Regions from separate parts of the Homo sapiens genome. Here regions 2, 3 and 4 are each linked to region 1. Evidence: fine-mapped expression QTL. A gene starts in region 1. Each other region holds a variant in brackets. All regions are shown on one strand. Distances are between the middles of the regions. Region 1 holds the start of CNTN6 (contactin 6). Region 2 overlaps LOC107986058 (a long non-coding RNA gene). Region 3 overlaps CNTN6 (contactin 6). Region 4 overlaps LINC01266 (long intergenic non-protein coding RNA 1266).

Region 1 (8,111 bases):
TAAGAAACTTGCCTAAGACCACAGAGCTATTCTGTGCTAGATATAGGGAAGGAAATCTACAATGGGCGGCACTTCAGCTCAAGAGCTTGCCTCCTGAATCTTGCTCTCACTATCATTTTATTGACACTGAGAAATTGCTATTTGCTTTTTAGTAAGATCATTCGTTTTTTATAATACTTCATACGACACATCATGTTCTTTTATTGCCTCTTTTAAGGATTTGAAATATAGGGAAATTCAGTTATTTATTCATTCATTTATTCATTTAATTGTAAACCTAATACATATAAGTTTTCTACTCAGTATACTTTCAAAAAGGATTTGAGTCTACAGATTTTGATTCATGTTACTATGATGTAACGTTTCTGTAAATTACCTTAGGACTCATTGCAAAATAGTTAAGTAGGCCACAGACTTCATCAATATAAACTAATAGGGGACATTATCAGAAGGCATGCCCAATGGCTCTGTTTTTCCTCTACTATGTCCTGTGTTACGCCTTTACCGTAATAAATGTTTAATACTACAACACATCATGCAGATGAACTCAGTCTTAACTAGAACAGCTCTTTTCAATATGAATACTGAGAATAACAACATTCTAATAAAATTTTCATTCAAAGAATTCCTCCAAACTGAAAGATTGCTATTTAAAACTCCTTAAATAAAGAGATTTTTAAATGTCCTCTATTGTCCCACAGAAACAATAAAGAGAAATATAAAAGGTGGCAGTGGTCGTGGTGCAGATAAAAAACGAAGCAAAAACCCTCCGTCTTCAGTGAAAATGTTAGTGGACAAAACCCCAAAACACGACTTGAAGCCCATTTCCACTGTAGCCAAATACTAAAAATCATGGACCTTTGGGGGACATCAGAGAAAACCGATCAGTACTTTCTTTTTCTCTTACTTTCAGGAGGATACAGATTGCCCAAAAACCTGCCAGCTGAGGAAATTGCTAGAGTGTTAAGAGAAGGAAACATGTATTTACAAGATCACAATACAGAAGGTTGTGCCTTAATAGGTTTATTGCAAGCTATACTATTCATTCAAGTGGCAAACAAGAGAACAAGTGGTTCTCAAATAAAGAAGATAACCAATTTGTCAATTAAAATTGAAAAGAAATTTGGATATGAAAGATGTGGAAAGTAGACAAATGAGATACAACATGTACAAAATTGGTGATCCTGAAGAAAAGAAAGAAGCAAGATAACCACAATTTGGCCACGCCCAGTTAAGGGACAAAAAAGAAATAGTACAACAAATCCTAAAATAAAAGAATCTTAAATTAATGGGGCAAACCTCAAAAAAAGTTAATGAAAATGGAACAAATCCAGGAATATTCTGTAAAAGCAAACACCCATACACACACTCACACACACACACACAACAAAAGAATCATGTAGGCATTTATCAGAAAAAAAGCAAGTCACATTCAATGACGGAAATTGCAGACAGACCTAAAAATGTTGCAAAACAACTTTCAGTACAGGAAGGGTCTCCAAAAATGTTTAAACATTTACACATTTCCAAAAGAAAAAATTAAGCTTGATCCAAGAAAGATAACGTATCTTGCATGTCTAAGGCAAAAGAAATACATGTTCAAGATGCAAACTCATAGAAAATATAGCACCTATGACTATTTCTTTGGTGGAGAGGTACTACTTACTGAAATCTAACAACCCAAAAAATAATTGAAAATAAAGAACACAGAAATGGTGAATTGGGTAGTAAAAGCCTGTTGATAAAGGATAATTCCTTACAAATTTGAAATAAGTTTAAACTGAGACCATGGGAATTCAGCCAGAATGTATGTACTCAGTAATGTAAAACTGATGTAGTTTAAATTGAGGTGGTATGGGTGGAGTTGATGACAAGTCACATTGCAAATGCATTTAACTATCATAACAAGGGTTATAAAAGTTTGTTTACTATTTAAACGTGCATCCAAAAAAATCTTCAAACTATTTCTATTTTCAAAATTTTTGGTCTTAACTGTAAGGGTATTATTCTGGACATAATATCTCCATTGGAGAGAAATCTATACATGAAATTTAACAATTTCTTCAATGTTGTTTCAACTTCTCTTTTTTCAGTTTAATTAAAATCTAAAATCAAAAATTAAACTCAATGTTTCTGTTTTCTGTTTTCTGTTTGTTTGTTTGTTTGTTTGAGATGGAGTTTCACTCTGTCACCCAGGCTGGAGGGCAATGGCGCGATCTCTGCTCACTGCAAGCTCCGCCTCCCGGGGTCAAGTGATTCTCCTGCCTCAGCTTCCTGAGTAGCTGTGACTACAGGCACACGCCAAAACGCCCAGCTAATTTTTGTATTTTTAGTAGAAATGGGGTTTCACCATGTTGGCCAGGATGGTCTCAATCTCTTGACCTCGTGATCCGCCCGCCTCGGCCTCCCAAAGTGCTGGGATTATAGGTGTGAACCACCGCGCGCGGCCAATATTTCTGTTTTTTTTTAAGTGTAGGATAAGATCTCATTCTTACAGAAGAGTATCTATTATTGACTATATTATCTAAATATTTATTATTTATTTTTTAAAAGGTGTATAGTAAGAAACCATTCTTACAAAAGTATTTATCTCTCATCTTATCTGAATTTAGGCACCAGTATGTCTCCAATGATAGTCGCCAAATTTCATGATTGTTATTTACAGGTGATGGGTTTTCCCTTTTGAACTTTTATGTATAGTTTGAGTCATTTTTAATAGGTAGAACTTATACTTCTGCATTCCAATTAATATGTTATTAAAATAAACAGTGAATAAATAAGCAAATATTTTGTATTCCTTCTCCTCACATAAAAGAATTTAAAAGGTACAAATTTACTATTATACTACTGAGCATTTTTACTTACTAAAAAAAAAACCCAGAAGTATGCAATCAATTTAATATACCACACATCCTTTTCACAACATAATTGATTTTTTTTAGAGGGGGTTCTAAACTCAGAGAAAATATGTGATCCTTTTCTAAGTAAACAAGTGAATTTGTTTTCATTAAGGAAAGCTACATAAAAATTCTAAAAAAAAATTCTGGTCCTTCACTACAAATATTCAAAGGAAGTAATGCAATGAAGTCATTTATAAATGATTGACTTTTTTGCTAAGATGTGATAAGTTATGCATTTATATAACCTCACATAAAGCTTTATATAAAAGTTTCCACATTTATATATTTGAAATCTTTGGACTGCACAGCCATGATTATTGCTTAAAAAAAGAAAAAGAAACCCCACTGAAACATCAAAGATGAAATGCTTCTGTATTTCTTTTTTTTTACACAAATTGTGTAAGTATTTTTGTATGTTTATGTTTGTTTTGTGAACATGCGTATGTTTACACATGTGTGTGAAGGAGGAGGGAAAAAGAGTCTGCTTAAACATTTCTTTCCTTATAAAATACAATGCACATAAATTGGTGAAACCTTCAACAACAAAAATAAAAAGATGATAAACCCATCAGATAAATGAAAATTGCTCAAAACAAGCAATTCAATATTCAGCATATGCTTCTTCTTTTACAGACATCTTCAGAAAACATTGCCACTGTAGATAAAATTATGAATACCTCATTTTCCAAATTGATTCTGTGTGATTCTACTGTTCACTCTATTTTTTCTCAGTATAACTTCTATTTAGTCATTCTGTGAATGTTTCTCAGAGGACATAGTCAGGATGCTGATTATTTAAACATAAGTAGTTTTCATTTGGAGAAGCAAAAACTATGAATTCCAATTTTCCCCCCAAACCCCAATGTTACAGTATCCCATTAACATAATGGGTTATACGTGGCTAATCTCAGAGCTCTTAAAAGTTTTGTTCCCAAGTCATCAACTTCTGAAAGTTTTCATAAAGTATTATAAGAACCTTAATACTGACAACTTAACTGGTGTAAATGGTAAAGGAAACTCCAGAGGCTGTTATCTAGAAGCTGGGTATAAAGCAAAATGCCAGACAAAATTTGGTGAGCCCATATGACCTCCAGTCTTGCTTTGCTCCCCTTACCAAATTCTCCCCTAGGAAACTTTATAACCATTCTTTTAAATCATCCGGTGAGAACTGCAAACCCCACCCCTCATCCCTTTGATTAAAAAAAAAAAAAAGACAAAAAACATTTAGCGATCACATTTTCCCATCTGCCGTTACAGAAAGGGCGTGTAGCCATCTGAAAGTCCCAGAATTAGCACTGTCATCCCGTCTTGCCCATTAGTTTTACTGCAGCAAAGACTAGTGAAACACTGAGAAATATACCTGTAGTCTTTCTTTCCCTGGTTTGATCCTAACCTCCCGGAATACAGATTCAATACATTTCTCCCACACAAGGAATAAATGCATTTTAAACATCAGCATCATAGAAACACAGCATCAATAAAGCAGTGACTTCTCCCCCAACCCCAGCTTTTACCTGTTATGCTAATACAAAGACATTGAAAGGAAGAAAAGCTGCAGCTTGCCCAGCAATATTCTCATTGCAGCAGACACAGCACAATTTTGTACTTACAGATCTTACCAGGGAAATGTCTCGGGATCTTTACAGTTTTTCTGCAGAACTCTGTTTCAAGCTCTCAGCCAGGCATGCTGTGCGTCCAGGCAGAACCAAGCCGTATGGAATGTCTATGCAGCTGGGAGATAATGGGACTCTTTTTCCCAGCTGGGACTGCAAGCCTTTTATCCACTGAGTATTGCGTGGCTCTTCTCTGGTCTTAAGCATGAAATACGCTCCTCTCCTGCTGCATTCCTGTCGGAGCCAGACAATCAGTTCTTGAGGCACATGTGCAAAGCTCTCGTTTGGAATATTCAAAAGGAAAATTCTTTCTACATTGAAAGCCAGCTCTATCTTCATCAACCTTCACAGAATCAGAGAGAGCTGAGAGCAGCTGCCATTCCAGGGCCATGAAAGATTAAATTCACCCTCCTCTTTCTTTGACTGGAGATAGTCACTCCTGTCGGGTCATCAGAAAATCTCTCTTATTGAAAACTGGGTCAGACTAACTACTTATTAGGTTTCCAACAGGAAAGGAAGTAATTTTTTTCTTCCTCTGGTTTCACTGCATTGTCATTTGCAAGCAAAGATTAAGCTGGTCAAGGGTCTGCACTGATTTAGACAGTATTCAAATGTAAGCTTTTTGAAGCATGCCAGTAACTCCTATTAGTGAAGGTGAAGAGAAAAGGGAAATAAAATCAAATGATTGTATGCACTATCACTAAAACCTTTATAAGTTGTATTTTTTAAATGTGTGTATGAGGCTTCTTAAAGACAGGTAAAGAAAGTGAAGTCAAACAAGTCCAAAAGAGTATTGCTGCTTTCCGAGTAACATATTTGTAATTCCAGAGGCAGAGAACAAGTGTCTATGTGTTTGCCTAAGAGCTCTGTAAGAAGAAGAATTGTTTTTGTGTTTCACCCTGGGCCCTCCAACTAAACTTTTTAATATGTTTGGGTCTTGTCATCGGGTTTTGAAGGGACTAACTGCTTGAAGGATGAAAACTAAGGAATAGGAATTACACATACATGCACACTGAGACTCTAGTGCATACAAACATAACTATAACATGAGAAAAGAATGATAGTTTGGACTTATTTTCATGTTGGCATACAAAGAAATTATACTCTTAGCATCTTAAAGTAAGTGGATACTGAGAAAATGAAATCCCCAAATCAAATGGAAATAAGTCAAAAGATATTTCTTGGCCTCAGTTTACTTTCATCTGATGAGCAAGAAGGTTTCTATGACTACATTTTATGACTATGTCCTATGGATTTCTTCACAGGGTCTAACCAACATTATAAGAGGCTTTAGAAAGGAGATGATGCTTCCTAACACAAGGTAAACTCAAAATGGGCTACCCTATTGTTTCTCCCAATTCATAAGAAGGCAAACTAGACTAATAATTTTATAGAAAGAATATCTGTTTTTATTGCCTCTTTTTTTTTTTTTTAAAAAAAATAGAAGTATTTCTTGCTCTGTAGGAATAAAAATATATTTTATTTGTAAAAATGCCAAGATGACTTTTTCTGCAGAGTTTTAAGAAAAATAATCATTATGTAGTAGGCTTTATTTTTTTTTTGTGGAAAGAAATTCATTCAAGCTTAAAGAATATCCCTTTACTCAAATCTCCAACAGTCTGACTCATATTCAAGGACAGCTGATTGCTTTGCTTTCTATTTTACCCAAAAAGGAATAAGAACCAGAAGAAAACTTCAATAAGCTCCTGTCACTACATCTAGTCACATACTTGGCCCCTGTGACCACAGACTCTCCCTTCATCTTGTTACTTGAGGTGAACCGTGCTCCCTCCTTAGACCAAGCCATCCACCTGTGCTTTAGATAGTCTTCTACTCAAGGGACCATTCTACCCACTTGTCTCTCTCTGTGGAATCATCAACTCTCCCTACCTTCTGTAGCATCACAACAAAGAGATTTGCTGCTAGTTGGCCCATTTTAAAAATCAGCACCCCTTTAACATACCGTCTTCCTCTGTCTACTACTGCATTTCCTTGCTTCTGTTTATAGTAAAACACCTTGAAGGAATTCTCTGTACTTACTGTCTCCATTCATCTTTTCTCATTTTATCTTGAATCTGCTTTGATTAGTCTTTTGTCCCCACTGTTCCACATAAGTGTTTCTGGTCATAGTCAATATTAAATTACGCATAGAATAATGCAATGGTCAACTTAGTCCTAATTTTACTTGATGTATCACTCACAAGTAATACAGTTTACCAAGTACTCCTCCTTTAAGCATTGCTTTTGCTTAATTTCTTAAATTTTCTTCTCGTTTACTACCTGCTCCTTCTCAGATCCCTTTGCTGATATCTTCTCATTTTATTAATTTTTAAACACTGGGGGAGGAGGTGTGGGTATCAAGGATCTAAAACAAGGTCTGTACACTACAGGCTACACAGAATTACTAAGGAAAATTAATTAAGACCTAAATAAGTAAAGAAATATGCCACATTCATGGGTCAAAAACACTCAATATTTTTAAGAAGTCAATTATCTCCCAATAGGTTTTTAGCTTTAAAATAATCTCAGTGAAAATATCAGGAGATTTTCTTGTAGCAATCATCAAATGAGGCTAAAATTTATGTAGCAATAAAATTAACCAAGAAAGTAAAATCGAATGATAAACAAAGTTGGCAGACATATCCTGTGATTTTTACAATTTACTACTAGTAATAGAGCGATAAAGACGGTGTGATGTTGGCAGGATAGGTCAACAAAACATAATTAAGTGTTCAAAAACAGATCAGCACATATACAGTGGATTTTAGACAAAGGTATCAGGTAATTCAATGGATATTGTGCTAATGGATATGTGCCGATTTTAGGTGAATGGATTTTAGACAGAGTTATCAGGTAATTCAATGATAAAGGCATCATAATTCAAGAAATGGTGCTTGAACAAATGAATATTCATTTGTAAAAAAGTTAACCTTAATCCTTACCTCGTACCACACACAAAAAGCTAACGTGAAATAGGTCACACACTTAAAGGTACAGCATTAAATTTTCTGGAAGAAAACCAAACACCACATATTCTCACTTATAAGTGGGAGCTGCATGATGAGAACACATGGACACATGGAGGGGGAACAACACACATCTTGGTACCCATCGTGGCGGGTGGGAGGAGGGAGAGTATCAGGAAGAATAGCTAATGAATGTTGGGCTTAATACCCAGGTGATGTGATGATCTGTGCAGTAAACCACCATGGCACTCGTTTACCTACGTAAAACCTGCGTATCCTGCACATGTACCCCGAACTTAAAATAAAAGTTGAAAAAAAAAAAAACTTCTGAAAGAAAATGTATGAGTCCTAGGATTAAGCAAAGATTTCTTAAAACTCATGTGCATACACACACATAAAAACACAGAACATAAAGAATAAATAGAAATATTGGACTTCATTAAATTTAAAAAGACTGATTTTTGAAATATATCATTAAGAAATTTTTACACCTCAATAACAAAAAAATAAGCAACCCATTAGAAAATGAAAAAAAAATGAACATTTTTAGCAAAGATATCCAAATGACATTTAAGCCCATTAAAATGATGCTCAACATCATTATTTTAAAAATGCCAATCAAAACCGCAAGA
Region 2 (8,111 bases), 220 kb after region 1:
GACTAACATGGTGAAACCCCATCTCTACTAAAAATACAAAACATTAGCTGGGCGTGGTGGTGGGCACCTGTAGTGTCAGCTACTCGGGAGGCTGAGGCAGGAGAATGGTGTAAACCCGGGAGGCGGAGCTTGCAGTGAGCCGAGATCCTGCCACTGCACTCCAGCCTGTGTGACAGAGTGAGACTCCATCTCAAAAAAAAAAAAAAAATTTCCTCTGCATGCATTTAGAACCACATCAAAGTTATAATTTTTTCTTCTACCATCAAACATATTTTAGAAAACTCAACAAATCCTACTGTATTTACAAAAGTTTTGCTTACTGTATTGTTTCTTTCTTTCAGATGTTCCAAGATTTTTGGAACGTCATTTCCTTTGTTTAGAGAACAAATTTCTTTAGCCATTATTTATGGTAGGTTTGATAATAACAAATTAATGTTTTCTCATCTGAGAATGGCTTGATTTCCCCTTCAATCTGGGAGGACATTTTCACTGGGTCTAGGATGCTCAATTAAAAGGCCTTTTCTTTCAGCATTGCATTGTGCCACTTGTTTCAGGACTCCATGGTTTCTGATAAGAAATCTACTGCCATTTGTATTATTTATCTCTAAAGGTACGGTGTGGGTTTTCTCTGGCTCTTCAAGATTTGTAAATGTCTCTTGGCATGGAATTCTTTGGTTTATCTTACCTGGAGTTCACTCAACTTATAAGTGAGTGCTGTATGTGTGTGTGTGTGTGTGTGTGTGTGTGTGTGTAACATTGGAAATAGTGCTATTAGAAAAGCTAGGGATAAACTCATGTATCTAACCAACTGAAAATTGCTACATAAGATATATTTAAAGAGCTCATGCAAACTAATAATAGAAGAAATGCCTGCTCATTTGAAAAATGGGTTATTTATGGCATAGGCTATTCACAGTAGAAGAAACATAACTGGCAAAATAGTCACATATTACATTATTTATCCTAGCCATAACTAAGTTTCTTTTTTATTCAATGAAAAAAGTGGAAAAAAGCTTTTGTAAATGAAGGAAGAAAAAGAACAACACTGCCTCATTTAATGCAGGTACACATTTTATGATTATTTGAATGCAATGAATTTGAAAATAAAATAATTTTGAATAAAATCACAGTTCATGAATAAATTGAGCAAAATATGTGAAAGGAAAATAAATCTCAGGATTCCAAACTCCCTCAGTCAAAAGGAAAATTTAAACTGGGAACTGCGTCATGCAACCTGCCTCCCATTTTGTTTCTAAGATGGCTAAAAACATGAAAAAGCTACATAGCTCCCTCATAATTTTCCCAAGAGCAAATTCCTTGTGGGCCCCAAGATCTTTATCCTGAGACAGTTATGTTGAATTTTACCCTGACCATGTACATTGATAGCTTGTCTTCACAAATACAGGACAAAGGACAGAACTCAAAGTCTTCACTTCGCTCATCTGAGGTAAATGCTTATCTGATTGCTTCTTCAGCCTTAAGTTTATTTTATTTTATGTAAAAAATGTAGATTCACTGAGCTAGATGAATGCATAAGTGACGATTTTTCTACCCTACTGTCACATGTGAATGGCTGATCAAAGACTCAGAAGAATGCAACTGCTTGCCTCTTAACTACCCACAGCTTTTAAAAATGTCTTTCTCTCTCTCCAGCATTTGCCCTTTCCCCTTTAAATATTGAAGCCCTCAAAATCATCTTTGGAGAAAGACACAGTCTTGTCTCCCAAGCACTGTCCTTAACTTTGGCAAAATAAATGTCTAAATTAATTGAGACCAGTCTCAGATAGTTTTTGGTTTGCAGACAATATAAAACTTTCACATTAACATTGTATTAAGGGTCATAGAGCTTCCAAGCTTCGTGGTGGAATAAATTGTAACTGGATTTAGTGCAACTTCCACATAGGTCTGACTCTTTAAGTAGTGAAAAATAATAGTTATCATTCTTTATTAGAATCAGTCTTGAATGAGGCAAGTGTTGACTTATTGGAGTGTGATATTATGATATAATAAGAACTATCCATTTGCTCTCTGACCCTGGTTCCTGTCACACAGCTCTGAAAACCCTTGGAATTTCTAGAGTGATGTGTCTTTGCATATTAATGAGATGATTGGTGGTTTGGGACCCTTAGATAGCTTCAGGACTGGGCTGGTCACCAGAAGGACCAAGGCATAATTAGAGTTGGAGTTGTCAGCCCCACCCCAACCCTCCAGGGAAGAGAGAGGGAGTGATGTTTGAGTTGATCACCAAGGACAAATGATATAATCAATGGCGTCTATGTAATGTTGCCTCTATAAAAAATCCAAAAGTCGGGGTTCCCTGGAGGTGCCTGGGAGGGTGGGTAAATAGCTTTCATACGTTGCCCTGGCTCTTTTAAAAATGCACCTGTTCATCTGTCTTGTTCATCTATATTCTTTGTAATGTATTTTATAGTGAATGGGTAAACTAAGTAAAGTGTTTCCCTAAGTTCTTTGAGCTTCTCTAGCAAATTAGCTGAATCTGAGGAAGGGGTGATGGGAACTCAGATTTATAGCCAATCACTCAGAAGCACAGGTCAAAACCCCAGGCTTGCAATTGGCATTTTAAATTGAGGTTAGTCCTATGAGACTGAGTGCTTAACCTGTAGCATCTGATAATAATTCTAGGTAGATAGTGTCAAAATTGAGCTAAGTTATAGTATACCCAGTTGGTATCTGTTAGAGAATTAGCTGCTTGTTGTGTGTCACGGGGAACCAATACATCTGGTTCATAAATTTGAATTGAATATGAGAGCAAGGAAAACGCTTTTTATTTTTCTTATCTCACATAGGGAATCTTTCAGAAAGTATACACACATAAAGAATCAGCTCCGTTATATGATGTATTCCTAAAATTCACCTTGCGATGCAAATTTATGAAAAAAAAATTACATGGCTTATGGGGAGACTGGTGTTGGGAAACAATAGTCAAAAACTTTTTCAGTGACATACACAGAAGAAAATCATAGGAACCTAATAAAAATAGTAGCATACTTTTATCCATATTAAGTGGTAAAGAAATATATAGTTTCATAAAAGAAATATGACACTTCCTTTTTGAAGAAAAACTAAGGTTTGCTTGTGGAAGTGAGTATTGAAAGGGTTTCAGCTTGGGAGGAATTGCAAAGTGGTGAAATAAGAATTATCTGAAATCAGACAGAAAGCTGTAACACCAGATATAGATGGGTGGTCTCATCACACCTGTGCTGAGCTGAAGTAGCTGTTGGATGTTTGAGGTTTGTTTATGCTTACATTTTATGTATTGCTACATGGCTTTGTTCTGCCAGGTGCCATTTTGTGCATCCGCCTAGTGTTTCTCAAAGATGAGGTAACACATAGGCAAACAAGAAATTTGTGTCATGCTCAAATTGTTCCTTAATATATAAATAGTTTTGGAGCTAATTCATTTTTTAAAAAACAAGCCTTTTAAAAGAACTTACTGCACTGCCTTCTAATCAGATACATTTGTTTGCAGGTGCATAATTTGGCACAGACTTTGTGCAGTTTAATTTAATACAATTCCTTTTAAGTACTGAATAAATCCCATTAAATCTGTAGAACATTTGATCCAATATATCAGCCTTTGGGATTTTACTAAAGAAGTAGAAACATTTTTATTGCAAAAATATTTAATATGAGTATGATTCATATACAAAATTTAGATCCTTCTTCAATGTAAAAATATAGGTGTTTGTTTAAAAAAATTATGTATAGCCATATAATTAACTACCATGCAAATATAAAAACAGTTTTTCAGAAATTATCTTTTGAAATTGAAATATATTAAAGGTGTATTATGAGAGAAAAATATCGATATTAAAATAATATGTAAGATAAAATATAAATCACATAATATATTTGTTTTTATATAATAAATGTATCTACAAGAGTATCAATAACTTGTCGTCTCTGGCTGAGTGGGATTATATTTATTACTTAAATTCATTGTTTCTTTTGTTTCAAAATATTTAGTGATTATTTTCTCTAATGATATATACAATTAGCATAATCATAACAAACATTATAGCTTATGCAACTTAAAATGTAATCTCAAAACAATTCTATGATATATTTTTATTAAATGGTTTACTCATGGTCCAAAATTGGACCAGGTACAATTACTTTGTTAGGCGTATGGTCCATGACTCTCCATCTTTTTCCTCCACCAGGGTTGATTCATAACTGTCATGCATACCACATGTTTCTACTTGGGCCCCTGGTAGATGTTGCAAATTGATCCCTGATTTATAACTTTTATCAACATGATATTGATATAACTGTGACTGAGCAACCAGAATTGGCACGTGAGCTGTATCTATTTGCCTCCTCTATTTCATCATGCCGGCAGAGAGCCAGTAACATGTATTCCCACTTGAACACCCATTGTCTGTATCAATTGTATAAAATTTGGCTTGGTTACTTTTAGAGCTGACTAAAATGCACTATGTATTCACTGCATTGTAGCATGCATATATTTGAAATGGAGATGTGTCCTACCGAAATATCAAGAAATGATCCATTTTTCCAGCATCTAATACTTAGGTTGCTCTAACATATCCTCAGAGGACTCATTTTCAAATCCCACTCTTGGACAAAATATTGCCTTTCTCTCCTTCACTGGTGACATTGAAATAAAATTGCTATGATCCAAGGACTAGAGAAATAAATACTGTATGCTTTAAAGAAAGGCCAATTTGGCAGCAACTGGGGGATGGGGGAGAACGGAATACTGCTGTGCCAATGTCAGAAACATCCCTTCCTCAAATCCTATCCTTTTTGCAGTGCAGAGCAACCTTCATAAGTTGTACTTCTCTCACACCCTGAAGCCAAACTTAAAAGTTTAATCCTCATGAGCAAAAAATGAAATTCTTTATAAAAATAGCTCCTGGCTGAAAGACTCTACAAAAAAAAAAAAAAAAAAAAAAAAAAAGGAGGAAGAAACAAAGAAAGAGCAGACAGCAAATGGGATAGTAAGCCAACAGAATTTTCCCACAGTAACCTTACCAC[C/T]TTGCATGCAAGGATCCTGGGCAGCCAAGTGTCAAGCTATGTGAAAAGGAAGCATGAGTCTCTGGTGCTTACAAATTCAATTCCATTAAACGAGTATTTATTGAGTGTCTTCCATGTGCTCAGCAATGCTTTAGACACTGTGAAAGAAACAAAGGATGTATAAGACAGTTACTACCCTGAAGGACTTTGCAATCTTGTTGAAGAGCTTTCTCTGGAAAACAATTTGATGCTGAATGAGTAAGAAACACACATGATTCAAAACACCCTGTGGACAGAAAAACTATTCACATGTCATCCAGATGTCATTTTAATGGAAGCTCAACCACCTCGTTTTTAATTTACCAAAGGAATCAACCCAGGGCATACGTATGTATTTAGCCTTGTCCACATTTCAAGTGGATCATTCTAAGCAAACAAACTTTCTTCTATACCAAGAATGCTGCTGATGAAATGTGCTGGGGCTGCCTGAATTTGCTCCTTGACCTTGTCTGTCAAATATGACAGTCATCTTTTTCTGGGTAATGCATTATCACCATGTCCCATTGTGATGATGTATTATACTTACACATCATTGAAGAAGCAATTTGCTTTGATGATGTACAGACATGCAATAGATCATGGCTCAGAAAGAGTGAGAGCAGGAGCACCCTGGAGATCTATATTTCAAGCAGTGATGCCATCCATACAAGAACACAGACATCATTAATTTAAATTATCTGGACAGGAGCTGGGCTAATGAAAGGACTTTTGACCCTTCCCAAATGTAAAAATAGATATATTAAAAATGCTTTCTCATGGTTGTCAAACGGTAGCATAGGGAATTCCTGTGGTGATGGAACTTCTCAGTGTCTTGACTGTGATGGTAGATACATAAACCTACACATTAATAAAAATCTATAGAATTTATACATGTACATGTGCACATACACACACAAATGAGTCCAAGCCAAACTGGGGTAACCTGAGTAAGTTGGACGGACTGTAAAATGTCAATATTATTGTCATGATATTACACTATAGTTTAACAAAATATTGTCATTGGGGGAAGCTGGGCAAAGTGTATACAGAATCTCTTTGTATTATTCCTCACAAATGCATGTTGTTCTATAATTATTTTAATAATTATTCACATGTAACCCAGATGTCATTTTAATAACAATGAAACTATTTTTAAATGGTTTCCCAGATAATAAAACATTATCAGACTCAACTTTTATAGTATGACCAAAGTTTTCTTCTTTTTAAGACATTATAAAGAAAAAAAGACATCCACACACTTTAATAAAAAATCCTGTTGTAAAGGGAGATATTGGCAAATATTTAATATTAATCCATGACAATTATATTCACATTAACACTGAATTAATGTCCAACACAAAGAAAGGATTCTGTTTAATGAAAGAAACTAATTTGTAGGATTTAAAATATTTTAGAACGTTATTTCAGTTCACATATATAAATATAAAAAACCTTAGTGTTGGTCTTTGTCATAAAACAGAATAGCTTGAGAGGGTAAGATCTATGAAGACAAATTTAAATAAGTTTAAACTAAGGCCTAAAGGTGAAATCCATACACAGGTTTCTTTAGAATTAGAGTTCTTAAGACAGAAATTATATCCATGTTACACCAGAAAAATCTTTTGATAAGTGTATTCAATAAGTGGACATCTTTATCAATAGTCATATTTACATGAAGCTGAATTTATTTTGGGGATGCATAGAAACTAGGGGAGTGCTTATTTATGTTACAGTGATGTTAGGCTAAGGGGATGGTTTTGCTTGCTAGGAACACAATGAAGATGAACAAGTACCAAAGACACAATTATGAAATGCAAATTGAGCAATGTGATGGGATCCAACATATAACACATATTGAGAAATGTGTCAACTTCCATGAGATTCCCGTAACCACAAGACATTAAAATAGAGAATAATTCATAAATCTATTAAGAATAGGAGAAAAGGAAGATACCAGGAGACAAAGACATTCCTTGCAGTAGGAAGGCAAATGATATCACATTTAGGAATGAACTGAAATGCTCATAGACTTAGCAGAAAAAGGAGTCAGTGAAGGAGAAAGCTGCTCTTCACAAAAGAGTCCTTGGAAGTTGGTATTTACAGAGATCTCAGATTTGAGAAGATGGGTATATAAATTAGATAAACTATTCTGCCTTCCAAGCCATATTTGCAATGGGGTATTTTCTTTCATGCTGAGTCCAGATTAATATATTCTAAAGAAATTGATCGATCTGTCTGCCCAAAATTGGGGATCCAAGAGTGGGCATGGAGACATGGAACAGAATCCAAATCATTTTTAATTGAGGATACACGTAGGCTGGAGATAGGGCATGTCCATTCCTTGCTCACATCTCTGAAAACTAATACTTGCCAATAATTACTGACAGTTACTTCTCATGTTCTGGGGTAGAGGCAAGTATGTGAAGAGGACATCCACTCAAGCTGCCTAAATTAGTTTGTTCAATTATTCATTCCTAAATATAAACATAGAACTAAGGAACACAATATATTTTGGGAAAAAAAGCAGAAAAGAGATGAAAATTTAAACATGTAAATATTTAAATTAAAAATGTAAAAATTTGAGATTATCAATTCATACATACATATAAAATCGATCTAGTGTTTTAGTTCTAGTAACTGAAGAGATAAAGAATGTAATACATGCTATGCCATCAATGACCTCAAAAATTTGATTTTTTAATAACATCTCCAAAATTCTGAAAGGCAGTATATCATATAAAGAAGATGCAGACCACAGTGGGCTTGATCAGCTTTCATACTGTTGCTTTCTTAAAGCACTTTAACATTTGATTCAGTTTTTTGACATGATAAACATGAATATATTGCCTGTCTTATACAGTGAAAGACAAATTTAAAGAGGACTAAATAAAAACAAAATTATTTGTAATATTAAATATTTTCAACAAGGATATAAAGGCTAATTGGCCTGAATTCTATTGTTTTACTTTATTTGGATAAAAACCATTACACTGATAAATAAGCAGAATATTCAAGTCAAGAGAAGTGTAAGTGACTAGTAAAGGGTTCAGTGCAAAGTTGTTTGTGCCATT
Region 3 (8,111 bases), 150 kb before region 1:
ACTGTTGTGGGTATTGACGGCCAGGCTTCAAAACCCCTGAAAACTCCCCCACTCTGGTACCAACTTGGACAGCACTCTTTTATGGACTCTTTTTTAGTTATCCCCACCTGCCCAGTTCCCTTATTAGGCCGAGATATTTTAACCAAATTATCTGCTTCCCTGACTATTCCTGGATTACAGCTGTGTCTCATTGCCGCCCTTCTCCCCAACCCAAAGCCTCCTTCGCGTCTTCCTCTCATATCCCCCCACCTTAACCCACAAGTATGGGACATCTCTACTCCTTCCCTGGCAACTGATCACATGCCCATTACCATCCCGTTAAAATCTAATCACCCTTACCCCGCTCAACGCCCATATCCCATCCCACAGCACGCTTTCAAAGGATTAAAGCCTGTTATCACTTGCCTGCTACAGCATGGGCTTCTAAAACCTATAAACTCTCCTTACAATTCCCCCATTTTACCTGTCCAAAAACCGGACAAGTCTTACAGATTAGTTCAGGATCTGCGCCTTATCAACCAAATTGTTTTGCCATCCACCCTGTGGTGCCCAACCCCTACACTCTTTTGTCCTCAATCCATTCCTCCACAACTCACTATTCTGTTCTCCATCTTAAAGATGCTTTTTTCACTATTCCCCTGCACCCCTCGTCCCAGCCTCTCTTTGCTTTCACTTAGACTGACCCTGACACCCATTAGGCTCAGCAAATTACCAAGGCTGTACTGCTGCAAAGCTTCACAGACAGCCCCCATTACTTCAATCAAGCCCAAATTTCTTCCTCATCTGTTACCTATCTCAGCATAATTCTCATAAAAACACACGTGCTTTCCCTGCCAATCGTGTCCGACTGATCTCTCAAACCCCAGCACCTTCTACAAAACAACAACTCCTTTCCTTCCTAGGCATGGTTAGCATGGTCGGAATTCTTACACAAGAGCCAGGACCACACCCTGTAGCCTTTCTGTCCAAACAACTTGACCTTACTGTTTTAGCCTAGCCCTCATGTCTGCGTGCAGCGGCTGCTGCTGCTTTAATACTTTTAGAGGCCTTCAAAATCACAAACTTTATCAGTCCTCCAGGCCCAAGTTGACTCTTTAGCTGCAGTTGTCCTCCAAAACCGCCGAGGCCTTGACTGACTTACTGCTGAAAAAGGAGGACTCTGCATATTCTTAAATGAGGAGTGTTGTTTTTACCTAAATCAATCTGGCCTGGTGTATGACAACATAAAAAAACTCAAGGATAGAGCCCAAAAACTTGCCAACCAAGCAAGTAATTATGCTGAACCCCCTTGGGCACTCTCTAATTGGATGTCCTGGGTCCTCCCAATTCTTAGTCCTTTAATACCCATTTTTCTCCTCCTTTTAATTCGGACCTTGTATCTTCCGTTTAGCTTCTCAATTCATCCAAAACCATATCCAGGCCATCACCAATCATTCTATACGACAAATGTTTCTTCTAACATCCGCACAATATCACCCCTCACCACAAGACCTCCCTTCAGCTTAGTCTCTCCCACTCTAGGTTCCCACACTGCCCCTAATCCCGCTTGAAGCAGCCCTGAGAAACATCGCCCGTTCTCTCTCCATACCACCCCCAAAAATTTTCACCACCCCAACACTTCAACACTATTTTGTTTTATTTGTCTTATTAATATAAGAAGGCAGGAATGTCAGGCCTCTGAGCCCAGGCCAGGCCATCGCATCCCCTGTAACTTGCACGTATACATCCAGATGGCCTGAAGTAACTGAAGATCCACAAAAGAAGTAAAAACAGCCTTAACTGATGACATTCCACCATTGTGATTTGTTCCTGCCCCATCCTAACTGATCAATGTACTTTGTAATCTCCCCCACCCTTAAGAAGGTACTTTGTAGTCTCCCCCACCCTTAAGAAGGTTCTTTGTAATTCTCCCCACCCTTGAGAATGTACTTTGTGAGATCCACCCATGCCCACCAGAGAACAACCCCCTTTGACTGTAATTTTCCATCACCTTCCCAAATCCTATAAAACAGCCCCACCCCTATCTCCCTTCACTGACTCTCTTTTCAGACTCAGCCCGCCTGCACCCACGTGAAGGTGCATGGGTTTATTTCACCCATGTGAAATAAACAGCCATGTTGCTCACACAAAGTCTGTTTGGTGGTCTCTTCACACGGACACACATGAAATTTTTTTCTTTTTTTTCTTTTTTTTTTTTTAGTATAATAACTTCTTTTCCTCTGGGTAGACACCAAGTAGTGGGATTGCTGGATCAAACGGTAGATCTACTTTTAGTCCTTTAAGGAATCTCCAACACTGTTTTCCATAGTGATTGTACTAGTTTACATTCCCACCAACAGTGTAAAACTGTTCCCTTTTCACCACATCCATGCCAATGTCTATTATTTTTTGAGTTTTTGATTATGGCAATTCTTGCAGGAGGGAGGTCGTATTGCATTGTGGTTTTGATTTACATTTTTCTGATAATTGGCAATGTTAAGCATTTTCCCATTTGTGCTTGCTTGCCATTTGTATATCTTCTTTGAGAATTGTCTATTCATGTCCTTAGCCCACTTTTTAATGGGATTGTTTGTTTTTTTCTTGCTGATTTGTTTGAGTTCCTTGTAGATTCTCGATATCAGTCATTCGTTGGATAAATAGATTGTGAAGATCTTTTCCCACTCTGTGGGTTGTCTGTAAACTCTCATGATTATTTCTTTGGCTGTGCAGAAGCTTTTTAGTTTAATTAAGTCCCATGTATTTATCTTTGTTTTTGTTGTGTTTGCTTTGTGTTCTTGGTCATGAAATCTTTGCCTAAGCCAATGTCTGGAAGTGTTGTTCCAATGTTATTTTCCATTATCTTTATGGTTTCAGGTCTTATATTTAGTCTTTGATATATCTTGAGTTGATTTTTTTTAAGGTGAGAGATGAGGATCCAGTTTCATTCTTCTACACTGGGCTTTTCAATGATCCCAGCACCATTTGTTGAATAGGATGTCCTTTCCACACTGCATATTTTTGTTTGCTTTGTTGAGGATCAGTTGACTGCAAGTTTTTGGCTTTATTTCTGGGTTCTCTATTCTGTTCCATTGGTCTATGTGCCTATTTTTGTAACAGTACCATGTTGCTTTGGTGACTATGGCCTCAGAGAAAAAGGTGAAGTCAGGTAACGTGATGCCTCCCAGTGTGTTCTTTTTGCTTAGTCTTGCTTTGGCTGTGTGGGCTCTTTTTTGGTTCCATGTAAATTTTAGGATTGTTTTTGCTAGTTCTGAGAAGAATGATGGTGCTATCTTGATGGGAATTGCACTGACTTTGTAGATTGCTTTTGGCAGTGTGGTCATTTTCACAATATTGATTCTCCCCAACCATGAGCATGGGATGTGTTTCTATTTGTTTGTGTCATCTATGATTTCTTTCAGCAGTGTTTCATAGTTTTCCTTGTAGAGGTCTTTCACATCCTTGATTAGATATATTCCTAAGTGTTTGTTTGTTTGTTTTTGCAG[A/G]TATTGTGAAAGGGGTGGAGTTCTTGATTTGATTTTCAGCTTGGTCACTGTTGGTAGGCAGCAGAGCTACCGATTTGTGTACTTTAATTTTGTATCTGGAAACTTTGGTGAATTCATTTACCAGTTCCAGAAGATTTTTGGATGAATCTTTAGGGCTTTTTAGGTATACAATCGTAACGTCAGCAAACAGAGACAGTTTGACTTCTTTTTTATCAATTTGGACACGCTTTATTTCTTTCTCTTTTCTGAATGCTCTGGCTAGGACTTCCAGTACTATGTTGAATAGAAGGAGTGAAAGTGGGCATCCCTATCTTGTTCCAGTTCTATATCTTACTGGTTTAATCTAGGAGAGTTGTATATTTCCAGGAATTTATCCATCTCCTCTAGGTTTTCTAGTTTATGCATGTGAAGGTGTTCATAGTAGCCTTCAATAATCTTTTGTATTTCTGTGATATCAGTTGTAATATCTCCCGCTTCATTTCTAATAGAGTTTATTTGGATCTTCTCTCTTCTTTTCTTGGTTAATCTCACTAACAGTCTATCAATTTTATTTATCTTTTCAAAGAGGCAGCTTTTTGTTTGATCATTCAGGAGCAGATTATTTAATTTCCATGTATTTGCCTGGTTTTGAAGGATCCTTTTGGAGTTGATTTCCAATTTTATTTCACTGTGGTCTGAGAGAGTACTTGATATAATTTCGATTTTCTTAAATTTCCTGAGACTTATTTTGTGGCCTATCGTATGGTCTATGTTGGAGAATGTTCCATGTGCTGATGAATAGAATGTGTATTCTGCAGTTGTTGGATAGAATTTTCTGTAAATATCTGTTAAGTTCATTTGTTCTAGAATATAGTTTAAGTCCATTGTTTCTTTGTTGACTTTCTGTCTTGATGACTTGTCTAGTGCTGTCAGTGGAGTGTTAAAGTCCTCCACTATTATTGTGTTGCCATCTATCTCATTTCTTAGGTATAGTAGTAATTGTTTTATAAATTTGGGAGCACCAGTGTTAGGTGCATATATATTTAGAACTGTGATATTTTCCTGTTGGACTAATCCTTTTATCATTATATAATGTCCCTCTTTGTTTGTTTAAACTGCTGTTGCTTTGAAGTATGTTTTGTCTGATAGAAGAATAGCTACTCCTGCTTGCTTTTGGTGTCCATTTGCACGGAATATCTTTTTCCACCCCTTTACTATAAGTAAATTTGAGTTCTTCTGTGTTAGTTGAGTCTCGTGAAGACAGCAGAGACTTTATTGGAGAATTCTCGTTTATTCTGCCATTCCGTATTTTTTAAGTGAAGCATTTAGGCCATTCACTTTCTATGTTAGTATTGAGATGTGAGGTACTATTCTATTCACCGTGCTATTTTGTTGCCTGAATACCTTGTGGTTTTTTTTTGTTTTGTTTTCTGTTTTCTTTTCTTTTTTTTTAAACATTGTGTTATTGTTATATAGGTTCTGTGAGATGTGTGCTTCAAGGAGGTTCTATTTTTGTGTATTTTGAAGATTTGTTTCAGATTTAGAGCTCTTTTTAGCTGTTCTTGTGTTGGCTTGGTAGTGGCAAATTCTCCCAGCATTTATTTGTCTGGAAAAGACTGTGTCTTTCCTTCATTTATGAAGCTTACTTTAACTGGATACAAAATTCTTGACTAATAGTTGTTTTGTTTAAGGAGGCTAAAAATAGAATCCCAATCCCTTTTAGCTTGTAGGGTTCCTGCTAAGAAATCTTCTGTTAATCTGATAGGTTTTCCTTTATAGGTTACCTGATGCTTTTGTCTCATAGCTATTAAGAGTCTTTCCTTTGTCTCAACTTTAGATAACCTAATGACTATATGCCTAGGTGATTATCTTTTTGTGATGAATTTCCCATATGTTCTTTGAGCTTCTTGTATTTGGATGTCTAGATCTCTAGCAAAGCTGAGGAAGTTTTCCTGGATTATTCTCTCAGACATATTTTCCAAATTGTTAGATTTCTCTTCTTCCTCGGGAACACCAATTATTCTTAGGTTTGGGTATTTAATGTAGTCTCAAACTTCTTGGAAGCTTTGCTCATTTTTTAAGAATTATTATTATTATTATTGTTTGTCTTTGATGGACTGGGTTAATTTGAAAGCCTTGTCTTAGAGCTCTGAAGTTCTTTCTTCTGCTTGTTTGATTCTATTGCTTAGACTTTCCAATGCATTTTACATTACTCTGTGTCCTAGATTTCCAGAACTTGTGATTGTTTTTTATTTATACTATCTATTTCACTGAAGAATTTTCCTTTAATTTTCTGTATAATGTTTTTAATTTCTTTAAGCTGGACTTCACCTTTTTTTGGTGGCTTCTTTTTTTTTCTTTTTGAAACAGAGTCTCGCACTGTTGCCCAGGCTGGAGTGCAGTGGCGTGATCACAGCTCACTGCAAGCTCTGCCTCCCAGGTTCACGCCATTCTCCTACCTCAGCCTTCCAAGTAGCTGGCACTACAGGCGCCCACCACCACGCTTGGCTAATTTTATGTATTTTTTAGTAGAGACAGGGTTTCACCATGTTAGCCAGGATGGTCTTGATCTCCTGACCTTGTGATCCACCCGCCTCAGCCTCCCAAAGTGCTGGGATTACAGGCGTGAGCCACCGCGCCTGGTCTCTGGTGCCTTCTTGATTAGCTTAATAATTAACCTTCTGAATTATTTTCCTGGCAATTCAGAAGTTTCATCTTGGCTTGGATCCATTGCAGGTGAGCTGGCATAATCTTTTGGGGGAGTTGAAGAACCTTATTTTGTCATATTATCATTATTGTCTCTCTGGTTTCTTCTCATTCGGGTACATTATGTCAGAGGGAATATCTGGGATTCAAGGGCTGCTCTTCAGAGTCTTTTGTCCCATGGGGTGCTCCCTTGTTTCGGTGTTCTCCCGCTTCCCCTAGGAATGGGGCTTCCTGAGAACTGAACTGTAGTGATTGCTTTGCTTTTCTGGATCTGGCACCCAGTGGAGCTACCAGGCTCTGATTGATACTGAGGAGTGTCTGCAGAGTCCTGTAATGTGATCCATCTTTAGGTCTTGCAGCTGTGGATACCACCACCTGCTCTGGTGGAGGTAGTAGGGGAGTGAAGTGAACTCTGTGAGGGTCCTTGGTTGCGTTTTTGTTTAGCGCTGGTTTTGTGTTGGTTGGCCTCCAGTCAGGAGATGGCGCTTCGGGAGTGCATCAGCTGTGGTCCTATACGGAGGATGCAAAAGTATTCAGGTTTCTCAGGTGGTGGGCAGGGCGATAGAGCTTTCAAGACATTATGACTTTTGTCTTTGGCTACCAGGACACATAGAGAAAGACCACCAGACTGGGATAGGGATAAGGTGTGTCTGAGCTCAGCCTCTCCTTGGGTGGGGCTTGCTGCAGCTGCTGTGAGGGATGGGGGTACAGTTCCCAGTCCGATGGAGTTATATTCCCAGGGGGATTATGGCTGCCTCTGCTGAGTCATACAGTTCACCAGGGAAGTGAGGGAAAACGCAGTCACAGGCCTCACCCCACCCCCACACAGCGTGAGTCCTAAAGGCCAGTCTCACTCCCACCATGCCCCACCCGCCCCCAGCAGCACTGAGTCTATTTCCAGACAGCTAGTGACCAGGGCTGAGAACCTGCCCCAGACCACCAGCCTCCCTATTGAGAAAGCAAGCCGACTCACAGTTTTTCTGCATCTCAGGGAGCCTGCAGCGGTGATCCAGTTCTTTCAAAGGGTTTGTGGATTCTCTCGGCTTTCCTGGTATGTTCCTGGGGTAGTTTCTGGGGCAAAGTATGATGTGAGTCTCCACATGCTGCTCTATCCCTCCCAGCAGGAGCTGCAAGCTAGTCTTGCTGCTTATCCGCCATCTTCTCTCCTGTATTTGCTATTTAAACACCTGAATCTGATTTACTTTTTAGACAATATTGGATATAAATTCAGATAATTATATACACATTATTACTTATAAATGCTCTTTATATGTATTATATATTTATTTATATATAAATAAACAATAGAAATATTTGATCCTTTAATGCAAAAAATGTCACTGTAATTTGAACCAATTTTATAAATCTTAGAAGCAAAATCTCTATGTGCTATGTTCATAAATTCCTTGAAACAGTTTGTCAAATAACATGAGTAATAAACAAGCATTTCAGCTTGTGCATCTGTCTCAGTTTTGTAAATCAGAAACTCCCAGTTTTGATAGAATGGATCCCCTACTTTCTTATATTTTCCTCTCCCATCCCAACTCTTAGCCTGCACAATTTTATTCAAATGAACTAAAAAGACTAGCTCCTGCTGAATATAAGTAGAAGTAGGCAGTGGGAGAAGGCCTGAATTTTGAAAAAGTACCATTTCTGATAAGACACATAAATAGATTTCCAGCAGCGATAGTGTGGGAAAAAATGAGGCTAAAGCATTGAATAATCTACTTCCCTGTTGATTTTAAATATAAATATAACAGTGGCTTGCTATAATTTAACCACGCAACTGCTTACAGTCTATTTGTTTAAGATCTGAATTATTTTTAAAAGCAAAGACAAAGTTTTCTCCTTGATATGATAACAATTGGTGGTTATGCTGTTATTTCATTAAGACAAATTGAGAATATTAAATCCATTGTAACATTGCTTATGCTATTTGCAAAT
Region 4 (8,111 bases), 280 kb after region 1:
ACCAATATGTAATGCCCTTCTTTTTCTCTTTTGATCTTTGTTGGTTTAAAGTCTGTTTTACCAGAGACTAAGAATACAACCGTAGCTTTTTTTTTGCTTTCCATTCGTTTGGTAAATCTTTTTCTATCCCTGTATTTTGAGCCTATGTGTGTCTTTGCATATGAGCTGGATCTCCTTAATACAGCACACTGATGGGTCTTGACTCTTTATCCAGTTTGCCGGTCTATGTCTTTTAATTGGGACATTTAAGCCATTTACATTTAAGGTTAATATTGTTATTTGGGAATTTGAACCTGTCATTATGACACTAGCTGGTTATTTTACATGTTAATTGATGCAGTTTTTTCATAATGTCGACGGTCTTTATAATTTGGTATGTTTTCGCAGTGACTGGTACCAGTTGTTCCTTTGCATGTTTAGTGCTTCCTCCAGGAGCTCTGGTAAGGCAGGCCTGGTGGTGACAAAATCTTTCAGCATTTGCTTGTTTGTAAAGGATTTTATTTCTCCCTCACTTATGAAGCTTAGTTTGGCTGGATATGAAATTCTGGGTTGAAAATCTTTTCTTTAACAATGTTGAATATTGGCACCCACTCTCTTCTGGCTTGTAAGTTTTCTGCTGAGAGATCTCCTGTTAGTCTGAGGGGCTTTCCTTTGTGGGTAACCCGACCTTTCTCTCTGGCTGCCCTTAATAATTTTTCCTTCATTTCAATCTTGGTGAATCTGACAATTATGTGTCTTGGGGTTGCTCTTCTTGAGGAGTATCTTTGTGGTGTTCTCTGTATTTTCTGAATTTGAATGTTGGCCTGCCTTGCTAGGTTGGTGAAGTTCTCCTGGATAATATCCTTAAGAGTGTTTTCCAATTTGATTCCATTCTCCCCGTCACTTTCAGGTACAACAATTAAATGTGGATTTAGTTTTTTTCCACATAGTCCCATATTTCTTGGAGGCTTTGTTCATTCCTTTTTATTCTTTTTTCTTTAATATTGTCTTCTCACTTTATTTCATTAAGTTGATCTTCAATGTCTGAGATGCTTTCTTCTGCTTGATTGATTCAGCTATTGATACTTGTTTATGCATCAGGATGTTTTAATGCTGTGTTTCAGCTCGATCAGGTCATTTATGTTCTTCTCTAAACTGGTTATTCTAGTTAGCAATTTGTCTAACCTTTTTTCCAGGTTCTTAGCTTCCTTGCATTGGGTTAAACATGCTCCTTTAGCTCGGAGGAGTTTGTTATCACCCACCTTCTGAAACCTACTTCTGTCAATTTGTCAAACTCATTCTCCATCCAGTTTTGTTCCCTTGCTGGCCAGAAGTTGTGATCCTTTGGAGGAGATGAGGTGTTCTGGCTTTTGGAATTTTCAGCCTTTTTGCACTGGTTTCTCACTATCTTAGTGGATTTATCTACCTTTGGTCTTTGATGTTGGTGACTTTCAGATGGGGTCTCTGAGTGGACGTCCTTTTTGTTGATATTGATGCTATCCCTGTTTGTCAGTTTTCCTTCTAACAGGCCCCTCTGCTACAGATCTGCTGGAGTTTGCTGGAGGTCCACTCCAGACCCTGTTTCCTGAGAATCACCAGTGGAGGCTGCAGAACAGCAAAGATTGCTGCCTGTTCCTTCCTCTGGAAGCTTCGTCCCAGAGGGGCACCTGCCAGATGCTAGCCAGAGCTCTCCTGTATGAGGTGTATGTCAGCCCCTACTGCGAGGTGTCTCCCAGTCAGGATACATAGGGGTCAGGGACTCACTTGATGGGGAAGTCTTACCCTTAGCAGAGCTGAAACTCTGTGCTGGGAGATCTGCTGCTCTCTTCAGAGCTGTCAGGCAGGAATGTTTAAGTCTGCTGAAGCTGCGCCCACAGCTGCCCCTTCCCCTAGGTGCATTGTCCCTGGGATATGGAGGTTTTATCTATAAGCAGCTGGGGCTGCTGCCTTTATTTCAGACATGCCCTGCCCAGAGAGGAGGGATCTGGAGAGGCAGTCTGGCCACCATGGCCTTGCTGAGCTGCGGTGGGCTCTGCCCAGCTTGAACTTCCCTGCAGCTTTGTTCACTCTGTAAGGGTAAAACCACTTACTCAAGTCTCAGCATTGGCAGAGGCCCCTCCCCACACCAAGCTTGAGCATCCCAGGTCAACCTCAAACTGCTGTGCTGGCAGCGAGAACTTCCAGCCAGTGCATCCAAGCTTGCTGGCCTCCATGGGGGTGGGATCCCCCGAGCCAGACCACTTGGCTCCCTGGCTTCAGCCCCCTTTCCAGGGGAGTGAACGATTCTGTCTCACTGGTGTTCCAGGCGCCACTGGGGTATTGAAAAAAAACTCCTGAAGCTAGTTTGGTATCTGCCCAAACAACCACCCAGTTTTGTGCTTGAAATCCAGGGCTCTGGTGGCTTAGGCACCAGAAGGAATCTCCTGATCTGTGGGTTGTGTAGACCATGGGAAAAGTGCAGTACCTGGGCCAGAGCACACCATTCCTCATGGTGCAGTGCCTCACTGCTTTCCTTGGGTCGGGGAGATAATTCCCCCAACCCTTGTGCTTCCTGGGTGAGGTGATGCCCCATCCTGCTTTGGCTTGCCCTCCACGGGCTGTACCCACTCTCCAACCAGTCCCAATGAGATGAACTGCTTACCTCAGTTGGAAATGCAGGAATCACCCACCTTCTGCGTCGATCTCGCTGGGAGCTGCAGACTGGAACTTTTCCTATTTGGCCATCTTGTCAGCAAATCCCCACATAAATATCTCTCAATGGACAAATGGTTAAACAAACTTTGGCCTATCCATATAATGGAATGATAGCAATAAAAAGTGAAAGGCTCAACCTACTAAATAAGCAACAATATGGATAAATCTCAAATACATTAAGTTAGTGAAACAATACGTACTTAAAAGGCTATATCCTTTATGATTCCGTTTACATGAGTTTCTAGGAGTCAAGTTGAAGGACAAGAAATAAGTCAGTGGTTGCCACTGGCTAGGACTGAGGGAGATGAATGCCTACAAAGAGGCAGAAGGTTACATTTTCAGGTGATGAAAATGTTCTATATATTGATTTTATTTGTAGTCACATGACTATATACGTTAGTAAAACTCATAGAATTATACATCAAAAAGAGTAAATTTTATTTTATGTAAATTCTACCAAAACAACCTGTGTTTCAAAATGAAAGATGGCTGAGAGTTGAATTGTTGAGGAGTTTGGAAGACAGGCAAACCTGATTTGACTTGTATTTTGGAAGTATTGAGAGCCACTTGAGGATTCTGAGGAGTAATTAAATGAGCAGGGTTGTGCTGAGCAATGATCGCTCTGTTAGAAACATGCAGGATGAATCATTCTATAGACAGATATATGATTAGAGGTAACATGTGCTATAATTTTCCTGTGACTGCTGTAGCTAAGGAATATCTTGACTAGGAAACTTGTCTACTTTTTTGTTCTGAAAGATAAGAAAACATAACAAGGGGCCTATGTATCTATCTACACATCCATCTTAGTTTATGCTACTTGTAATTTATTTATTTATTTATTTTTATTATACTTTAAGTTTTAGGGTACATGTGCACATTGTGCAGGTTAGTTACATATGTATACATGTGCCATGCTGGTGCGCTGCACCCACTAACTCGTCATCTAGCATTAGGTATAT[C/T]TCCCGATGCTATCCCTCCCCACTCCCCCCACCCCACAACAGTCCCCAGAGTGTGATATTCCCCTTCCTGTGTCCATGTGTTGTCATTGTTCAATTCCCACCTATGAGTGAGAATATGCGGTGTTTGGTTTTTTGTTCTTAAGATAGTTTACTGAGAATGATGATTTCCAATTTCATCCATTTCCCTACAAAGGACATGAACTCATCATTTTTGATGACTGCATAGTATTCCATGGTGTATATGTGCCACATTTTCTTAATCCAGTCTATCATTGTTGGACATTTGGGTTGGTTCCAAGTCTTTGCTATTGTGAATAATGCCGCAATAAACATACGTGTGCATGTGTCTTTATAGCAGCATGATTTATAGTCCTTTGGGTATACACACAGTAATGGGATGGCTGGGTCAAATGGTATTTCCAGTTCTAGATCCCTGAGGAATCGCCACACTGACTTCCACAATGGTTGAACTAGTTTACAGTCCCACCAACAGTGTAAAAGTGTTCCTATTTCTCCACATCCTCTCCAGCACCTGTTGTTTCCTGACTTTTTAATGATTGCCATTCTAACTGGTGTGAGATGGTATCTCATTGTGGTTTTGATGTGCATTTCTCTGATGGCCAGTGATGATGAGCATTTTTTCATGTGTTTTTTGGCTGCATAAATGTCTTCTTTTGAGAAGTGTCTGTTCATGTCCTTCGCCCACTTTTTGATGGGGTTGTTTGTTTTTTTTCTTGTAAATTTGTTTGAGTTCATTGTAGATTCTGGATATTAGCCCTTTGTCAGATGAGTAGGTTGCGAAAATTTTCTCCCATTTTGTAGGTTGCCTGTTCACTCTGATGGTAGTTTCTTTTGCTGTGCAGAAGCTCTTCAGTTTAATTAGATCCCATTTGTCAATTTTGTCTTTTGTTGCCATTGCTTTTGGTGTTCTGGACATGAAGTCCTTGCCCATGCCTATGTCCTGAATGGTAATGCCTACGTTTTTTTCTAGGGTTTTTATGGTTTTAGGTCTAACATTTAAGTCTTTAATCCATGTTGAATTGATTTTTGTATAAGATGTAAGGAAGGGATCCAGTTTCAGCTTTCTACATATGGCTAGCCAGTTTTCCCAGCACCATTTATTAAATAGGGAGTTCTTTCCCCATTGCTTGTTTTTCTCAGGTTTGTCAAAGATCAGATAGTTGTAGATATGCGGCGTTATTTCTGAGGGCTCTGTTCTGTTCCATTGATCTATATCTCTGTTTTGGTACCAGTACCATGCTGTTTTGGTTACTGTAGCCTTGTAGTATAGTTTGAAGTCAGGTAGTGTGATGCCTCCAGCTTTGTTCTTTTGGCTTAGGATTGACTTGGCGATGCGGGCTCTTTTTTGGTTCCATATGAACTTTAAAGTAGTTTTTTCCAATTCTGTGAAGAAAGTCATCGGTAGCTTGATGGGGATGGCATTGAATCTGTAAATTACCTTGGGCAGTATGGCCATTTTCATGATATTGATTCTTCCTACCCATGAGCATGGAATGTTCTTCCATTTGTTTGTATCCTCTTTTATTTCCTCGAGAAGTGGTTTGTAGTTCTCCTTGAAGAGGTCCTTCACATCCCTTGTAAGTTGGATTCCTAGGTATTTTATTCTCTTTGAAGCAATTGTGAATGGGAGTTCACTCATGATTTGGCTCTCTGTTTGTCTGTTGTTGGTGTATAAGAATGCTTGTGATTTTTGTACATTGATTTTGTATCCTGAGACTTCGCTGAAGTTGCTTATCAGCTTAAGGAGATTTTGGGCTGAGACAATGGGGTTTTCTAGATATACAATCATGTCGTCTGCAAACAGGGACAATTTGACTTCCTCTTTTCCTAATTGAATACCCTTTATTTCCTTCTCCTGCCTAATTGCCCTGGCCAGAACTTCCAACACTATGTTGAATAGGAGTGGTGAGAGAGGGCATCCCTGTCTTGTGCCAGTTTTCAAAGGGAATGCTTCCAGTTTTTGCCCATTCAGTATGATATTGGCTGTGGGTTTGTCATAGATAGCTCTTATTATTTTGAAATACGTCCCATCAATACCTAATTTATTGAGAGTTTTTAGCATGAAGGGTTGTTGAATTTTGTCAAAGGCTTTTTCTGCATCTATTGAGATACTCACGTGGTTTTTGTCTTTGGCTCTGTTTATATGCTGCATTACATTTATTGATTTGCGTATATTGAACCAGCCTTGCATCCCAGGGATGAAGCCCACTTGTTCATGGTGGATAAGCTTTTTGATGTGCTGCTGGATTCGTTTTGCCAGTATTTTATTGAGGATTTTTGCATCAATGTTCATCAAGGATATTGGTCTAAAATTCTCTTTTTTGGTTGTGTCTCTGCCCGGCTTTGGTATCAGAATGATGCTGGCCTCATAAAATGAGTTAGGGAGGATTCCCTCTTTTTCTATTGATTGGAATAGTTTCAGAAGGAATGGTACCAGTTCCTCCTTGTACCTCTGGTAGAATTCGGCTGTGAATCCATCTGGTCCTGGAGTCTTTTTGGTTGGTAAGCTATTGATTATTGCCACAATTTCAGCTCCTGTTATTGGTCTATTCAGAGATTCAACTTCTTCCTGGTTTAGTCTTGGGAGAGTGTGTGTGTCCAGGAATTTATCCATTTCTTCTAGATTTTCTAGTTTATTTGCGTAGAGGTGTTTGTAGTATTCCCTGATGGTAGTTTGTATTTCTGTGGGATCCGTGGTGATATCCCCTTTATCATTTTTTATTGCATCTATTTGATTCTTCTCTCTTTTTTCTTTATTAGTCTTGCTAGTGGTCTATCAATTTTGTTGATCCTTTCAAAAAACCAGCTCCTGGATTCATTAATTTTTTGAAGGGTTTTTTGTGTCTCTATTTCCTTCAGTTCTGCTCTGATTTTAGTTATTTCTTGCCTTCTGCTAGCTTTTGAATGTGTTTGCTCTTGCTTTTCTAGTTCTTTTAATTGTGATGTTAGGGTGTCAATTTTGGATCTTTCCTGCTTTCTCTTGTGGGCATTTAGTGCTATAAATTTCCCTCTACACATTGCTTTGAATGCGTCCCAGAGATTCTGGTATGTTGTGTCTTTGTTCTCGTTGGTTTGAAAGAACATCTTTATTTCTGCCTTCATTTCGTTATGTACCCAGTAGTCATTCAGGAGCAGGTTGTTCAGTTTCCATGTAGTTGAGCAGTTTTGAGTGAGATTCTTAATCCTGAGTTCTAGTTTGATTGCACTGTGGTCTGAGAGATAGTTTGTTATAATTTCTGTTCTTTTACATTTGCTGAGGAGAGCTTTACTTCCCAGTATGTGGTCAATTTTGGAATAGGTGTGGTGTGGTGCTGAAAAAAATGTATATTCTGTTGATTTGGGGTGGAGAGTTCTGCAGATGTCTATTAGGTCCGCTTGGTGCAGAGCTGAGTTCAATTCCTGGGTATCCTTGTTGACTTTCTGTCTCGTTGATCTGTCTAATGTTGACAGTGGGGTGTTAAAGTCTCCCATTATTAATGTGTGGGAGTCTAAGTCTCTTTGTAGGTCACTCAGGACTTGCTTTATGAATCTTAGTGCTCCTGTATTGGGTGCATATATATTTAGGATAGTTAGCTCTTCTTGTTGAATTGATCCCTTTACCATTATGTAATGGCCTTGTCTCTTTTGATCTTTGTTGGTTTAAAGTCTGTTTTATCAGAGACGTGGATTGCAACCCCTGCCTTTTTTTGTTTTCCACTGGCTTGGTAGATCTTCCTCCATCCTTTTATTTTGAGCCTATATGTGTCTCTGCATGTGAGATGGGTTTCCTGAATACAGCACACTGATGCGTCTTGACTCTTTATCCAATTTGCCAGTCTGTGTCTTTTAATTGGAGCATTTAGTCCATTTACATTTAAAGTTAATATTGTTATGTGTGAATTTGATCCTGTCATTATGATGTTAGCTGGTGATTTTGCTCATTAGTTGATGCAGTTTCTTCCTAGTCTCGATGGTCTTTACATTTTGGCATGATTTTGCAGCGGCTGGTACTGATTATTCCTTTCCATGTTTAGTGCTTCCTTCAGGAGCTCTTGTAAGGCAGGCCTGGTGGTGACAAAATCTCTCAGCATTTGCTTGTCTGTAAAGTATTTTATTTCTCCTTCACTTATGAAGCTTAGTTTGGCTGGATATGAAATTCTGGGTTGAAAATTCTTTTCTTTAAGAATGTTGAATATTGGTCCCCACTCTCTTCTGGCTTGTAGGGTTTCTGCCAAGAGATCCGCTGTTAGTCTGATGGGCTTCCCTTTGAGGGTAACCCGACCTTTCTCTCTGGCTGCCCTTAACATTTTTTCCTTCATTTCAACTTTGGTGAATCTGACAATTATGTGTCTTGGAGTTGCTCTTCTCGAGGAGTATCTTTGTGGTGTTGTCTGTATTTCCTGAATCTGAACATTGGGCTGCCTTGCTAGACTGGGGAAGTTCTCCTGGATAATATCCTGCAGAGTGTTTTCCAAC

What was found. PIP is the estimated chance that this variant, and not a neighbour inherited with it, causes the effect.
Region 2: its variant is fine-mapped to the expression of CNTN6 in gastroesophageal junction (GTEx, PIP above 0.99).
Region 3: its variant is fine-mapped to the expression of CNTN6 in lung (TOPMed, PIP above 0.99).
Region 4: its variant is fine-mapped to the expression of CNTN6 in pituitary (GTEx, PIP 0.91).

The regions. Positions count from the first base shown.
Region 1 is chr3:1,089,529-1,097,639 of GRCh38, reverse strand. CNTN6 (contactin 6) reads right to left here and starts at 4,616. Exons shown (of 23, transcript NM_001289080.2): 1 at 4,520-4,616.
Region 2 is chr3:867,007-875,117 of GRCh38, reverse strand. LOC107986058 (a long non-coding RNA gene) reads right to left here. Exons shown (of 3, transcript XR_001740584.1): 3 at 4,957-5,159. Among named protein-coding and RNA genes, the nearest start is that of CNTN6, 220 kb to the left of the region's middle. The variant C/T (reference allele first, on the strand shown) is at 5,023.
Region 3 is chr3:1,234,794-1,242,904 of GRCh38, reverse strand. The region is part of intron 4 of CNTN6 (contactin 6); the gene reads right to left. Among named protein-coding and RNA genes, the nearest start is that of CNTN6, 150 kb to the right of the region's middle. RefSeq lists an enhancer at 6,205-7,404. The variant A/G (reference allele first, on the strand shown) is at 3,483.
Region 4 is chr3:810,803-818,913 of GRCh38, reverse strand. All of the region lies in intron 2 of LINC01266 (long intergenic non-protein coding RNA 1266), which reads right to left. Among named protein-coding and RNA genes, the nearest start is that of LINC01266, 220 kb to the right of the region's middle. The variant C/T (reference allele first, on the strand shown) is at 3,636.